Linked DNA regions of Homo sapiens: all the other regions are linked to region 3. Evidence: fine-mapped expression QTL. A gene starts in region 3. Each other region holds a variant in brackets. All regions are shown on one strand. Distances are from middle to middle. Region 1 has its middle 53 kb from the start of PHIP. Region 2 has its middle 78 kb from the start of IRAK1BP1. Region 3 holds the start of PHIP (PHIP subunit of CUL4-Ring ligase complex).

Region 1 (5,539 bases), 53 kb before region 3:
AACCAAGAAGAAATCCCTGATTTACCTGAAAAAGAATTCAGAAGGTTAGTTATTAAGCTAATCATGGAGGCAACAGAGAAAGGCAAGGTCCAGTGTAAGGAAATCCAAAAAATGATACAAGAAGTGAAGGGAGAAATATTTAATGAAATAGATAATGGACAAACTTATAGAAATGCAAAATGCTCTGGAAAGTCTCAGCAATAGCATCGAACAAGCAGAAGAGAAAACTTCAGAGCTCAAAGACAAGGTTTTTGAATTAACCCAATCTGACAAAGAAAAAAGAATAAGAAAATATGAACCAAGCCTCCAAGAAATCTGGGATTAGGTTAAACAACCAAACTTAAGAATAATCAACATTCCTGAGGAAGAGAAGAAACCTAAAAGTTTGGAAAATATGTTTGGGGGAGTAATTGAGGAAAACTTTCCCAGCCTTGCTAGAGAACTAGATATCCAAATACAAGAAGCTGAAAGAACTCCTGGGAAATTCATCGCAAAAAGGTAATCACCTAGGCACATTGTCATCAGGTTATCTAAAGTTAAGACAAAGGAAAGAATCTTAAAAGCTATGAGGCAAAAATGCCAGGTAACCTAAAAAAGAAAACCTATCAGATTAACAGCAGATTTCTCAGCAGAATCCTACAAGCTAGAAGAAATTGGGACCCTATCTTCAGCCTCCTCAAATGAAACAATTATCAGCAAAGAGTTTTATTTCCAGCGAAACTAAGCTTCACAAATGAAGGAAAGATACAGTTGTTTTCAGACAAAAAAATGCTGAGAGAATTCACCACCACCAAGCCAGCACTATAAGAACTGCTAAAAGGAGCTCTAAATCTTGAAACAAATCCTGGAAATGCATAAAAACAGAACCTCTTTAAAGTATAAATCTAACAGGACCTATAAAACAAAAATGCAATTTAAAAAAAGGTACAGGCAACAAATAGCACAATGAATGGAATGGTAGCTCACATCTCAATACTAATATTGAACATAAATGGCTTAAATGTTCCACTTAAAAGATACAAATTGCAGAATGGATGAGAATTCACCAACCAACGATCTGCTGCCTTCAAGAGACACAACTAACACATAAGGATTCACGTAAACTTAAGGTAAAGGGATGGAAAAAGTCATTCCATGCAAATGGACACCAAAAGCGACCAGAAGTAGCTATTCCTATATCAGACAAAACATGTTTTTTTTTATTATACTATAAGTTCTGGGACACATGTGCAGAATGTGCAGGTTTGTTACATAAGTATACATGTGCCATGGTGCTTTGCTGCACCCATCAACCTGTCATCTACATTAGCTATTTCTCCTAATGCTATCCCTCCCCTTGCTTCCCACCCCCAGGCAGGCCCCGATGTGTGATGTTCCCCTCCCTGTGTCCATGTGTTTTCATTGTTCAACTCCCACTTATGAGTGAGAACATGCGGTGTTTGGTTTTCTGTTCCTGTGTTAGCAGATAAAACAAATTTTAAAGCAACAGCAGTTAAAAAAGACAAGGAGGGACATTATATAATAATAAAAGGCCTTGTCCGACAGGAAAATATTACAATCCTAAATATATATGCACCTAACACTGGAGGTCCCAAATTTATAAAACAATTACTAAGAGACCTAAGAAATGAGATAGACAGAAACACAATAATAGTGGGAGACTTCAATCCTCCACTGATGGCATGAGACAGTTCATCAAGACAGAAAGTCAACAAAGAAACAATTGATTTAAACTATACCCTGTAGTAAATGGACTTACCAGATATTTACAGAACATTCTACCCAACAAACACATAATATACATTCTATTCAACAGTGCATGGAACTTTCTCCAAGATGGACCATATAATAGGCCACAAAAGAAGTCTCAATAAATTTATGAAAATTGAAATTATATCAAGCACTCTCTCAGACCACAGTGGAATAAAACTGGAAATCAACTCCACAAGGAACCTTCAAAACCATGCAAATACATGGAAATTAAATAACCTGCTCCTGAATGATCATTGGCTCAAAAACGAAATCACGATGGAAATTTAAAAGTTCTTCAAACTGAACGACAATCATGATACAACCTGTCAAAACCTCTGGAATACAGCAAAGACGGGGCTAAGAGGAAAGTTCATAGCCCTAGATGCCTACATCGAAAAGCCTGAAAGAGCTCAGACAATCTAAGGTCACACCTTAAGGAACTAGAGAAACAAGAACAAGCCAAACCCAAACCAAGCAGAAAAAAGGAAATGACCAAGATCAGAGCAGAACTAAATGAAACTAAAACAAACAAACAAAAATACAAAATGAAAAAAAGGTGGTTCTTTGAAAAGATAAATAAGATTGACAGACCATTAGCAAGACTAACCAAGAAAAGGGAGAAAATCCAAATAAGCTCAATTAGAAATGAAACGGATGATATTACAGCTGACACCACAGAAATACAAAAGATTATTCAAGGCTACTATGAACACCATTATGAACATAAACTAGAAAACCTAGAGGAGATGGACAAATTCCTCAAAAAAATACAACCTTCCTTGCTTAAATCAGGAAGAATTAGATACCCTGAACAGACAAATAACAAGCAGTGAGATTGAAACGGTAATAAAAAAAATTACCAACAAAAAAAATCCAGGACCAGATGGATTCACAGCAGAATTCTACCAGACATTCCAAGAATTGGTACCAATCCTATTGACACTATTCCACAAGATAAAGAGGGAATCCTCCCCAAATTATTCTACGAAGCCAGTATCACCCTAATACCAAAACCAGGAAAGGACATAACCAAAAAGGAAAACTACAGACCAATATCCCTAATAACATAAATGCTAAAATCCTTAACAAAATGCTAGCTAACCAAATCCAACACATATCAAAAAGATAATCCACCATGATCAAGTGGGTTTCATACCAGGGATGCAGGGATGGTTTAACATATGCAAGTCAATAAATGTGATACACCACATAAACAGAATCAAAAACAAAAATCAC[G/A]TGATCATCTCAATAGCTGCAGAAAAAGCATTCAACAAAACCCAGCATGGCTTTATGATTAAAACTCTCAGCAAAATTGACATACAAGGGACATACCTCAATATAATAAAAGCCATCTATGACAAACCCAAAGTCAACATCATACTGAATGGGGAAAAGTTGAAATCATTCCCTCTGAGAACTGGAACAAGACAAGGATGCCCACTCTCACCACTTCTCTTCAACATAGTACTGGAAGTCCTAGCCAGAGCAATCAGACAAGAGAAATAAAGGGCATCCAAATGGGTAAAGAGGAAGTCAAACTGTCGCTGTTTGCAGATGATACAATTGTTTACCTAGAAGGTCCTAAAGAATCCTCCAGAAAGCTCCGAGAACTGATAAAAGAATTCAGCAAAGTTTCTGGATACAAAATTAATGTACATAAATCAGTAGCTCCTCTATACACCAACAGTGACCAAGCTGAGAATCAAATCAAGAACTCAATGTCTTTTACAATAGCTGCAATAAATAAAATATTTAGGAATATACCTAACCAAGGAGGTGAAAGACCTCTACAAGGAAAACTAAGAAACACTGCTGAAAGAAATCATCCCATGCTCATGAATGGGTAGAATCAATATTGTGAAAATGAACATACTGCTAAAAGCAATCTACAAACTCAATGCAATTCCCATCAAAATACCACCATCATTCTTCACAGAATTAGAAAAAACAATTCTAAAATTCATACAGAACCAAAAAAGCCCACAGAACCAAAACTAGACTAAGGAAAAAGAACAAATCTGGAGTCATTACATTATCTGATGTCAAACTGTACCGTAAGGTCATAGTCACTGAAAAGTATGGTACTGCTATAAAAATAGGCACATAGACCAATGGAACAGAATAGAGAACCCAGAAATAAACCCTAATACTTACAGCCAACTGATCTTAGACAAAGCAAACAAAAACATAAAATGGGGAAAGGACACTCTATTCAACAAATGGTGCTGGAATACTTGGCAAGCCACATGTGGGAGAATGAAACTGGATCTTCATCTCTCACCTTATACAAAAATCAACTCAAGATGGATCAAGAACTTAAATCTAAGACCTGAAACTATAAAAATTCAAGAAGATAACATTGGAAAAACCCTTCTAGACATTGGCTTAGGCAAGTTTTCATGACCAGGAACCCAAAAACAAAAGCAATAAATACAAAGATAAATAGCTGTGACTTAATTAAACTAAAGAGCTTTGCACGGCAAAAGGAACAGTTAGCAGAGAAAACACACAACCCACAGAGTGGGAGAAAATCTTCACAATCTATACATCCAACAAAGGACTAATATATCCAGAATCTATAACAAGTTCAAACAAATTAGCAAGAAAAAAAGCAAACAATCCCATTAAAAAGTGGACTAAGGACATGAATAGACATTTCTTGAAAGAAGATATATTAATGGCCAAAAAACATATGAAAAAATGCTCAGCATCACTAATGATCAGGGAAATGCAAGTCAAAACCACAATGCGATACCACCTTATTCCTGCAAGAATGGCCATAATAAAAAAATAAAGAAATAATAGATGTTGATGTGGATGCAGTCCACAGGGAACACTTCTACACTGCTGGTGGGAATGTAAACTAGTACAACCACTATGGAAAACAGTGTGAAGATTCCTTAAAGAGCTAAAAGTAGAACTACCATTTGATCCAGCAATCCCATTACTGGGTATCCGCCCAGAGGAAAAGAAGTCATTATATGAAAAAGATACTTGCACACACATGTTTATAGCAGCATAATTTGCAATCACAAAAATGTGGAACCAACCCAAATGCCCATCAGTCAATAAGTGGATAAAGAAACTGTGAGATAGATAGATATATATATATATATATATATATATATATATATATATATATATATATATATATATAAAATAAAATACTACTCAGCCATAAAAAGGAGTGAATTAATGACCTGGATGAGATTGGAAACTATTATGGTAAGTAAAGTACCTCAGGAATAGAAAACCAAATATCGTATCTTCTTACTCATAAGTGGGAGCTAAGCTATCAGGATGCAAAGGCATAAGAATGACACAATGGACTTTGGGGACTCGGGGGAAAGCATGGGAAGGGACTGAGGGATAAAAGACTACAAATTGGGTGACATGTATACTGCTCAGGTGACGGGTGCACCAAAATCTCACAAATCACCACTAAAGAACTTACTCATGTAACCAAACACTGCCTGTTGCCCAATAACCCATGGAAATCTTTAAAAAAATAAAATAAAAATAAAAAGAATGTTGAATATTGACCCCTAATTGCTTCTGGCTTGTAGGTTTTCTGCTAAGAGGTCTGCTATTAGTCTGATGAGCTTCCCTTTGTAGGTGTCCTGACCTTTCTCTCTAGCTGCCTTTAACATTTTTTCTTTCCTTTGGACCTTGGAGAATTTCATGATTATGTGTCTTAGGGATGATCTTCTTGTGAAGTATCTTGCTGGGGTTCTCTGCATTTCCTGAATTTGAATGTTGGCCTTGCTAGCTAGGTTAGGGAGGTTCT
Region 2 (5,539 bases), 290 kb after region 3:
GTGTGATCGTGGCCCACTATAACCTTGAACTGCTGGATCCTCCCACCTCAGCCTCTTGAGTAACTAAGACTACAGGTGTGCGTCACCACACCTGGCTGATATTTTTTTAACTTTTAAGTTCAAGGGTACAAGTGAAAGTCTGTTACTTAGGTAAACTTGTGTCATGGGGGATTGTTGTACAGATTTTTTCGTCATCCAGGTATTAAGCCTACTACCCTTTAGTTATTTTTCCAAATCCTCTCCCTCCTCCCACTGTCCACACTCAAGTAGGCCCCAGTATCTCCTCCATGTGCCCATGTGTTCTCCTTATTTAGCTCCCACTTATAAGTGAGACAATGTGATATTTGTTTTTCCATTCTTGTGTTAGTTTGCTAAGGATAATGGCCTCCAGCTCCATCCATGTTCCTGCAAAGAGCATGATCTTGTTATTTTTTATGGCAGCATGGTATTCCATGGTGTATATATACCATATTTTCTTTATCCAGTCTCTCACTGATGGACATTTAGGTTGATTGCACATCTTTGCTATTGTGAATAGTGTTGCAATGAGCATATATGTGCATGTGTCTTTATAATATATATAAATAAATATAATATTTATATTCCTTTGGGTATATACCCATTAATGGGATTGCTGGGTCAAATCGTATTTCTGTCTTTAGGTCTTTGTGGAATTGCCACACTGTCTTCCACAATGGCTGAACTAATTTACACTCCCACTAACAGTATATAAGTGTTCCTTTTTCTCCCAAACCTTGCCAGCTTCTGTTACTTTTTGACTTTTAATTAATAGTCACTATGGCTGATGTGAGATAGTATCTCATTGTGGTTTTGATTTGCATTTCTTTAATGATCAGTAATATTGAGCTTTTTTTCATATGGTTGTTGGCCACAAGTATGTCTTTTTATGAAAAGTGTCTGTTTATGTCCTTTGCTTACTTTTTATGGTGTTGTTTCTTTCTTATACATTTGTTTAAGTTCCTCATAGATGCTGTATATTAGACTTTTCTTGGATGCATGGTTTGCAAAAATTTTCTCCCATTTTGTAGGCTGTCTGTTTACTCTGTGGATAGTTTCTTTTGATGTTCAGAAGCTCTTTAGTTTCATTAAATCCCATGTGTCAATTTTTGTTTTTGTTGCAATTGTTTTGGCATCTTTGACATGAAATCTTTCTCTGTGCCTATATCCTGAATGTTATTGCCTAGGTTATCTTCCAGAGTTTTTATACTTTTGGGTTTTACATTTAAGTCTTTAATTCATCTTGAGTTAATTTTCATATAGGTGTTAGGAAGGGGACCAGTTTCAACCTCTGCCTATGGCTAGCCAGTTTTCCCAACACCATTTATTGAGTAGGGAATCCTTTCCCCATTGCTTGTTTTTGTAAGATTTGTCAAAGATCAGATAATAGTTGGTGTATGGTCTTATTTCTGGGTTCTCTATTCTGTTCCATTTGTCTATGTGTCTGTTTTTGTACCAGTATCGTGCTGCTTTTGTGACTGTAGCCCGGTACAGTAGTTTGAAGTCAGATAGTGTGATGCCTCCAGCTTTGTCCTTTTTGTTGAGGAATGCCTTGGCTATTTGGGCTCTTTTTTGGTTTCATATGAATTTTAAGATCGTTTTCTCTGGTTCTGTGAAGAATGTCGTTGGTAGTTTAATAGGAATAGCATTCAATTTATAAATTGCTTGGGGCGGTATGGCTATTTTAACAATATTGATTCTTCCTATCCATGAGCATGGAATATTTTTCCAATTGTTTATGCCATGTTTGATTTTTTTGAGTAGTGGTTTATAGTTCTCCTCATAGAGATCTTTCACCTCCATAGCTAGTTGTATTCCTAGGTATTTTCTTCTTTTTGTGGCAATTGTGAATGGGAGTTCATTCCTGATTTGGCTCTTGGCTTGACTGTTGTTTGTGTGTAGAAATGCTAGTGATTTTTGTACACTGATTTTGATATCCTGAGACTTTGCTGAAATTGTTTATCAGCAAGAAGCTTTTGGGCTGAAACTATGGGATTTTCTAGTTAATAGGATTATGTTATCTGCAAATAGGAATAGTTTGACTTTCTCTCTTCCTATTCAGATGCCCTTTTTCTCTCTCTCTCTTGCCTGGTTGTGCTGGCTAGGACTTCCAATTCTATATTGAATAGGAGTGGTGAGAGGAGTCATCCTTGTCTTGTGCTTGTTTTCAAGGGGAATGATTCCAGCTTTCCCCAGCTAATTAATTTTTTTTTTCTCAGAGATTAGGTCTAATTATGTTTCCCAGGCTGGTCTCCAACTCCTGGCCTCAAGTGATCCTCCTAACTTGGCCTTCCAAAGTGCTGGGATTACAGGTGTGAGCCACTGTGCCCTGCTCAAATCCATGAA[G/C]TTTTGAGAGTGGAGATGTACGTGACTTTCTTATCAGAAAGCTAAGACCTGTTCCATGTCTGAGTCTCACTGCTCATAATTTCTTTGAGTCATTTGCTGACATGATCCTGCTCACACCCAGAGAAAGCTGGGTGGCACTGTGGAAGGAATCATGGAGTGAGAGCCCAGAAACATAAGGTGTAGACTGTCTGGGCCCTGTGAGCAACTGGTGATAGCCCAGATGCTGGACTTCCCTGCTTTATTTTATCTGTAAAACAATCTTAATAGTATCTACTTGTGTTAACTTCCAATGGCTGATGTAACAAATTACTACACACTTTAAAACACGAATTTATTATCTTATGGTTTTGTAGGTCAGAAATCCAACACAAGTTGCTTGGGGCTAAAATCAAGGTGCCCACCAGGCTGTGTTACTTTCTGGTTGTACTAGGAGAAAATCTGTTTCCTTGTCTTTTCCAGCTTCTAGAGCCTGCTCACATTCACTGATTTGGGGTCTCATTCCTCCATCTTCAAAGCTAGCAATGTAGCTTTGATGATACTTTTGTTGTTATATGTTTTTCTCTGACACTCCCTCTTCTGCTTCCCCCTTTTTTGAATGATCCTTGTGATTACACTGGACCCATTGGATAATCCAAGATAATCTCTCTATTTTAAGGTCAGCTGATTAACAACTTCAATTTCCTCTGCAACCTTAGTTTCCCTTTACCATGTAACCTAACATATTCATAGGTTCTGAGATTAGAATGTGAACATTTTGGGGAGCCATTGTTATGCCTTGAAAGTGGCTATGCCCACTTTAGTTGGTAAAGGAATCAAATATAAAGGTACATCATCATTATGAATTACCATAATGATAGAATATACTATTGGCTGGGTAAAGTATTTTCATGTGCTTCAAGATAACTTAAAAACTCATTGCAATCAACATTTGATATGCCCCGGTTTTTGTTTTAACGTTAGCCATTTGGGGGATATTCAGTAGTATGTCATTATGATTTTAATTTGCACTTTCCTGAAGACTAATGGGAATAAACACCTTTAAATGTGTTTCTTGTCCATTTATGTATCTCATATTGTGAAAGGTATATCTAAACCTTTTATTCATTTGAAAATTGCATTTTGTCTGCATTGTGTTGTATGAGTTTGTGGTGAAGTTGCTATTGTGTCACCTTAACTAAACTGGAACTACTTTTTTCTGGGATGTCCCTCTCTGGTTGTTTTGAGCCTGAAAATTTGTGCAGGATTTAGAATGCAGACATAAAGCAGCAACTATCTTCTTTTTATTCATGGAAAGCTGGAGCAAGGCAGGTGGCACTGTTGCAGCTCACACACACTGTTGCTAATTTGCTGGTCACCCTGTGAGCATGAGGTGGCATCTGAGTTCATAGCTCCTCCAGCCAGACTTCCTCTTTACATTGTGCTGAATCCTGGGCCAGGTACATACTTATCTCCTGTAGTCAGTTGAATTTGTGTCTCCCCAAAAATATATGTTGGGATACTAGCCTTCAGTACCCCGGAATGTAACCTTATTTAGAGATAGAGTCTTTGTAGAGACAAAGGTAATCAAGTTAAAATGAGTCATTAGAGTGGGCCCTAATCCAAATACAGTGGTGTCCTTTTGAGAAGGGACAATGTGAACACAGAGACACACACATTCACAGAGAATGCCATGTGAAGATGAAGGAAGAGATTAGGGTGATGTAGCAGATACCAAGGAATGCCAAAGATTGCCAGCAAACCACCAGAAGCTAAACAAGAAGAATGGAAGAGGTTCTCCCTCACAGCTCTCAGGAGGAACCAACCCTGCTAATGTCTTCATCTGAGATTTCTAGCCTCTAGAACCAAGACAATAAATTTCTATTTTAAGCTATCCAGTTTTTATCGTGTTGCTCTGGCAACTCTAGCAAACTAATACATCTCCCTAATCATTGAAGTTGGAAGCTTGATTGAAGTTGGTGAGAGATTGGTACAGTCTGTCCTTGGAGATTTCAGCCCATCCTTATAGGTGAGTTTCTTCTTGCTTCTCTCACATTGCATTTAATTTCTCTTCCTGACTGCTTTATTAGCAGATCTCAGACTCTAGTATCAGATGTACAGACAACAGTTTCACAGAGACAGTCTCCCATAAATGTATGAGATCAAATCCATATAATGAAATATGTTTATATACATATATATATATATATATATATATATATATATATATATATATATATATACATACACATATGTATGGGACTCTTAGTGGTTCTGTTTCATTAATCAAGCCCTGATTGATACAGAACTCTTTGTATATCTTTAATACTAGTCAGATACATGTTTTGGAAAGATTTACCTCCCAATCTGTGGATCACCTTTTCATTTTCATAATGGTGTTTTTGAATAGTTATAGTTTTTAATTTTGATGAAGTAAAATTTATTAAAGTTTATATATATATATACACACACACACATATTTTGGCCTAGTGTAAACAAATCTTTACTCCACACTCATGAAGATATTCACCCGCCTCCCCCTTTTTTTTTTTAGCATGGTAAGAGGTAGTGGTCAAGATTCTTCTTTTTTTCTTATGGAGATTCAGTTGTTCCAGACCATTTATTAACATTATCTTTCTTTCTTAAATTGCCTTAGTATTTTTGTTGAAAACCAATTGACCATGTATAGGTGGGCTTATGGCTGGACCTCATCTTGTTCCATTGATTTACTTCTCTATTCTTGGCCAAAGATCACATTGTAAAAACCGCTATAGCTTTATAGTAAATCTTGAAATCAGGGAGTGTAAATCCTACAACTTTGTTGTTTTTCAAAATTGTTTTGTCTATTCTAAATTCTTTGAATTTGTATATAAATTGTAAACTGAGTTCAACAGTTAAAATGGATTTTTTTGGGATTTTGGTTAGGATTGAATTGGATATACAGATTAATTTGGGGGAATTATTGATAGTTTAATAATGTTGAATCTTCAAATACATGACCAGAGCATATATATTTAAATTGTCTTCATTTATTTAGATCTTCTTTAAATGTTCTTGAGAAATGGTTTTTAGTTTTCAGTGTTTTCATTACATTTATTATTGTTTTTAGGCTACTGTAAATAGCATTTTAAAATATCATTTTCTTAGGAACGCTTTTACAATGTTGGTGGGAGTGTAAATTGGTTCAACCATTGTGGAA
Region 3 (5,539 bases):
TTTTTATGTTTAAGAAAATTAAAAGGGCTATTTGGAGTATTTGTTACATTTAAAGGACTTAGTAAAATTCAATTCAATATCCACTGTTAAATACAAATAGTTTATTTGGCTGAAGGGAAGTTTTAATTTTTAGCAGGTAATGTATATTTTCTTATAACAGACAATAGTTCAAAGGGAAGGTTACAACAATCTGCATATTGGACATTTGAAAAAGAAATATAAACACTGTCAAAAATCAATCAAAATGACAGGAACATCATGTTTAGAAAACTTAGAGGGGGATTTTCCAAAAAATTTTTAAGGAGCTAAGTACTAGTAGCATATTTAGGTGAAAGCTTTTGTGGCTTCTAAATGAAAAGAATATATGAGATAATCATGCTAGTTTTCTATGTTTACAAAACACACAGAAGATATATATCACAAACTTTACCCAGAGTAATATTATATTCCATGTCATAATTTGGTTTATTTTCAATCACAAGAATAAAACATCTATTAGTAAGAATCATACATTCCAAGCCTTCAAAACCAGAAAATCCCACTATAATTTTTAGTTTCTAAACTCTGTTTATTTGAAGAACTTCAAGATCGTGTAAAATATTACAATTATTTGAAGAACACTTTTTTAAAAGTTAAGCTAAAACAGCATCGGTCTTAGAAGTAAATACAATTTGCAAAAAGGCATACAAAATTTCCTATCTTTTCAGTCTATCTTTTCAAGCCTAACCACCTAGAAATAGGCTACTTTACCTATAATTGAATAGAATAAAGTGTCTTTAAAGATGCAAATATGTTCAGTATTTGAGAATAGCTATCTTAAAAAAAATAAGTTATTCTGATAACCAGGTTGCAATAGGACAAGTCATGGTAACCTTCCATTTTTAAGATTCAGTTACAAAAGGCAATTTTATATCCTATTATTCCAAAGGGTTTGAGGCTTTATTTCTTCTTCCTCATATGTATGATGATTTCTGGATGTTTTAGTATAGGGCATCACACTGGTGCAGCACACTTGGGCTTACAGTGCAGCCCAAGGCATTTGCAGCAAGTATTTCCCACTAGGAATGTAAGGAGCTAGGAGGTTACAAGGCTTGAGGAAACAATCTAGAAAACCACAATACAGCTTGTTGGTCCTTTCCCCACAAATAACCTTTTTAAACCAGACCCATAAAATGCAGTTTATTATCTAACATTTTTAAGGAGAATCTTTTGTTAAATGTTAACAAAAGAACGACTATCCAAATTCCCTTTAAAATGCAATCCTTAAAAAATATTGAACTCTCAAGTCTTTTTGGAAAGTGCTTAAATCATCTGGAGATAAATATCATTTGGTGTCCTTGTTTTCTAACAAATGGCTTTTTCTATTGTTTCCATTAATTTCACCCATATTCGTTTTTTTAAAAACAAGGCCCTTATCCTCATCAGCAAAACACAGATGTATGATTTAGCATATAAAATCGGTAATTACATACTAATTTACGAAAGATTTTTTTTTCTCCTTTTCGTCAGTTTTCAAGAAGTCTTCCCGTGATTAACTGTAAACAGGAATGGTTTACATCTCAAATTAGAAGCCATTAATTAGCATGACGAAGTCAACTGCAAGATACACAGATTATTTAAATTATTTAATCACTATTCACCTTGGCTAAACTGTAGTATACTCTTTCAATATCCTTAGGCAGGTTATCGATCTGTCACTAAATTACCTCCAGATCAGTTAGACATGAATATTAGCGTCCTTTCCTTTCCCTCAGGTTTACATTCTCCCTTCTCGTAAACACTTAAAAAAGCTTTAAGGTTCTTTAATTCCAAATACCTAATTAGCCATCACTAGCCTTTTTGTAATAAGGAAAAAGAGTATCTGAAGTACAAATCAAGAGTTCGCTTTGCCCGTTTAACAATAAAAAACATTTAAAAAACGTACGCCAAAGGCAATGGCAGTAATAAAAGAAATATGCAGAGGTGGCTTCAGCAAATAACGGGTTTGCAAAACGCAAGTGCTTAACAAAAAGCAGCCCAAACCTCTATTGCAATATACAGCACTCCAATAAATTACACAACACTTGCATAGGCTGCAGAAATAACGCAGGACAAGACTTACACAGATGCCAATCCGCAGCATTTATACACATGCACATGGCAAGAGACAGAAACCAAACACTATCATTCAACTCGGGAAGGGTAGCGCGATCCCGAGCTTGCCCAGCGTGAGAGTGCTCTCTGCGTGTGTGTCTGTGTACGCGCGTGAGTGAGACCCATCCTTGGGGCATTTCCCCTCTCTGGGCAGTTTTGCTTCATTTGTTTCATATTTCTGCTACATAGAAACTAACTTCCATCTCAGCTCCAGCCAGCGCCGCTGAATAGAGCCTGTGCTGCGGCTCCGTGTGCGTCAGATCCCTCCGCGGAACCGTCCCCGGCCCCCTCCCTGCCACTATCGGCCTCCACAGAGAAAGCGCCTTCCAGCCAACCGGCGGCTTGGGCTCCGACATCTTCTCCGACTGGAAATAAATAAATAAATCGCACGCCCTGCGGGGAGGAGCGGGTGGGGGTCTCACTGTGCCGCGTGCGGAGCGCTGGGGACGAGGGGTCGGAGGCACTCCTTTTTTAGCGCCGGGGGGCGGGGGCGCGGGCCAGAGCCGGGGCCGAGCCCTGGGCCGCGAAGGCGGCGGACTCCTTTCTGCGGCGGAGGGATCCGCGGCGGAGGCGGCCACGGCCGTAGTCGCTGCCTGAGAGTTGTTGTTTCCTCCTCCTCCTCCTCCGCCTCCGCCGCCGTTGCTTGAATGGTGGAGCCGAAGCTCGGCTCGTGAACACACACTGACAGCTATAGGGCAGGCGGCGGCACCGTCCCCGCTTCCCCTCGGCGGCGGGGTGTCCCGTCGGCGGCCCTGAAGTGACCCATAAACATGTCTTGTGAGAGGAAAGGCCTCTCGGAGCTGCGATCGGGTAAGTCGGGGGGCTGCCGGGGCCGCTGGCACCGGGCGATTCCGCCCGCGGTCCCCCGCCCCCCGCCGCCCGACCGCTCAGCCTGTGTGTCTCCCCGTCCCTCTCTCCCGCGCAGAGCTCTACTTCCTCATCGCCCGGTTCCTGGAAGATGGACCCTGTCAGCAGGCGGCTCAGGTACGGCGGCGCGCGGCGCGGGCCGGGCCGGCGCTCGCCGCTCGCGGGCGTGGGGGAGGGAGGCGGCGGCGGCGGGGCCGCGGCCCGGGGCGCGGGGCTCAGCTCTCCCCGCTTTGTTGTTGCAGGTGCTGATCCGCGAGGTGGCCGAGAAGGAGGTAAGGGCGGCGGCGGCCCGGCGCGTCCCGCCGCCGCGCGGCCGCCTCTGGGCCGCTGCGCCGCCGCTGCCGCCGCCGGCAGGGCGCGGGGCGCGGGGCTCGGGGTCCCCGCCGGGGCGCGGGGCGGGCGGGGGAGGGGAGCGGGCGGGTAGGGGCCGGGGGCCGGGCTCACGGGGTGTCCTCTCCCCGCAGCTGCTGCCCCGGCGCACCGACTGGACCGGGAAGGAGCATCCCAGGACCTACCAGAATCTGGTGAGACATTCACGTCGCAGAGCAAAGAAACTTTTCCCTGAGTCGAATAAAAATTGAATTTCCCGCAATTTTTTACAGAGACAAAAACTTGGCCCTAGAACGTGAAAGCTCCAAAGGCCATGGGGAGGGTTGGGAGGCCGGCGCGGGGTCTGCGGGGGCCAGTGGCCGGGGGTACTCGTACTTCGGGGCCGCAGGGGCTGCGGACAATTTATTTGTGATATTTTGTTAATGTGCTAGAAATAAAGATACGTCATGAGTGTTGTGCAGTGCAAGGCCGGAGGAGGAGGGGCCGGCGCGCGCGTCCGTGCGGGCGCGGGGGCGCGCGAGAGTCGGCGGCGGCGGGAGCGGCGCGAAGAGGGAGAGCGCGCTCGCTCGTTCGCTTGCTCGCTCTGCACGCGCGGCCGGCTCGGCTTTCTCCTGCCCTACACAATAGCTGGTGACTAACTGCTCCGAAGTGGCATTAGCATTTCACAAGCAGGCTATCCAGCCGCTGCGGTACCGTGGCAAGACATTATTTTTTCCCCCTCTGTCGTTTATTTTGTTTTCCTTAAATTCAGTCCTGGGTTTTTTGTTGGAAGGATTCTGATGTGTGATGATAGTTGGTCAGTGCTTCGTCTTGCATTTACTAAAACACATCTTTGCAGAAGTGTAAAGCCTGTAATTCCCTAAAACCAGAAGTTTAGTAGGCTTTTTTTAATTCTTATGGTATGCCTCTCGTTTAATTAAAAATTATTATTGGAGTACACTGAAGAGTTTTGATTTTTGTCCACATATTTACTGTGGGATGGAACTTGGCCTATGAAAGTTGTGTTTATATTGGGACATATTTTGTTTAATAGCTTAAAAACCTTAATTTTGTGGGTTGTCAAAATGAGTATTTTAGGAATCTTTAAAAATTGCTTTTCAGAAGTGGATTTATCACTTCAGTATTGTGATTGGAAGTTACTTTAAAGGAGCTATATTTTCTGTAACACTTTCTCCTAAACTGATACAGGTTCGTTGTGTGAATATGTGTGTGGGGCAGTTAAAGCAGTCGCACCGGACCCACCAAGCCTTTGAAATTTATGTAGTGTGTTGATTTTATGAGGCTTTTGTAACTGTTTTGAGATAGTTATGATTACTAATGTTACTTCATCAGAACTTCTCTAATGACTAGGAAGTTTCAGCGAGCTTAGAATGAGTGTCTTTTGTGAGGTGAAAGCAGGACATGATTATAATGGCGCTTTTTTTGGTATGTAGTGTATTTCCTAACTTTTGTGTATAAATCTCTTGTGGTTTAATATAAGATGTTGATAACCGCTCAAGGCTGTTGAAATAAGCAAGGGTACTGAGGTTTAATACATCTAATGGAGATTTAACAGTGTATTAGTGTATTCATTTTCACACTGAACGTGTGTTAATTTTCAAGGAGTGATTTGGGTTACTTTCATTCAATTCTTGGCCAAAGTGAATGGAGCTGGAAGTAAACTCCAAGATTTACTAATTTGAAATTAATTTTTAGGTTTACAAATACTTGATAGAAGTCTTCAGTGAATTTACATGTCTTCCTTGATATTTGAAAAAATTATCGCAAAGATTATAATACTCCATTTTTAAGATGGGGCAGGTTTTACAAAACTCGTCTTTGCATCTGCTTTTACATCTGTGCATCTCTTAAAAACCCACAAACCTTAAGTCACTGAGGAATGCTGCATTTTCTTAATCTTTTGGTAATGTTACATTTTTTAAATGAAGCAGCTTAATGTTATCTGGCTAAATTATGGTAATGGCTAATCCTCGTAGGAATATCATTTTGTTTTTTTGTTTTTTTTTTCAGTAAAAATGAGCTATCAATTTTGATTTTGAGTTAATTTAATTTTTGGGGGGAGGGTGGGGGGAGGAATTATTAGTAAAGTGAATTTCTATCCCTAGTCTGCATCGCAGATTTAAGATACAGTAAGCATTCTTTCTATCTATGTATTATGCTCAAAATTCACCTATTTTGAATGGAAGTGGTTTTTCTTGCTTGGAGTTTT

What was found. PIP is the estimated chance that this variant, and not a neighbour inherited with it, causes the effect.
Region 1: its variant is the best candidate, but not a certain one, in a credible set for the expression of PHIP in lung (TOPMed, PIP 0.56).
Region 2: its variant is the best candidate, but not a certain one, in a credible set for the expression of PHIP in esophagus mucosa (GTEx, PIP 0.69).

What each region holds. Positions count from the first base shown.
Region 1 is chr6:79,128,869-79,134,407 of GRCh38, reverse strand. No RefSeq gene overlaps it. Among named protein-coding and RNA genes, the nearest start is that of PHIP, 53 kb to the right of the region's middle. The variant G/A (reference allele first, on the strand shown) is at 2,989.
Region 2 is chr6:78,787,195-78,792,733 of GRCh38, reverse strand. No RefSeq gene overlaps it. Among named protein-coding and RNA genes, the nearest start is that of IRAK1BP1, 78 kb to the left of the region's middle. The variant G/C (reference allele first, on the strand shown) is at 2,365.
Region 3 is chr6:79,075,433-79,080,971 of GRCh38, reverse strand. PHIP (PHIP subunit of CUL4-Ring ligase complex) reads left to right here and starts at 2,718. Exons shown (of 40, transcript NM_017934.7): 1 at 2,718-2,943; 2 at 3,059-3,117; 3 at 3,243-3,272; 4 at 3,465-3,524. The coding sequence starts at 2,904. LOC124901346 (a long non-coding RNA gene) reads right to left here. Exons shown (of 2, transcript XR_007059652.1): 2 at 3,706-5,539. RefSeq lists an enhancer at 2,291-2,340 and silencers at 2,461-2,700, 2,831-3,000, 3,500-3,999.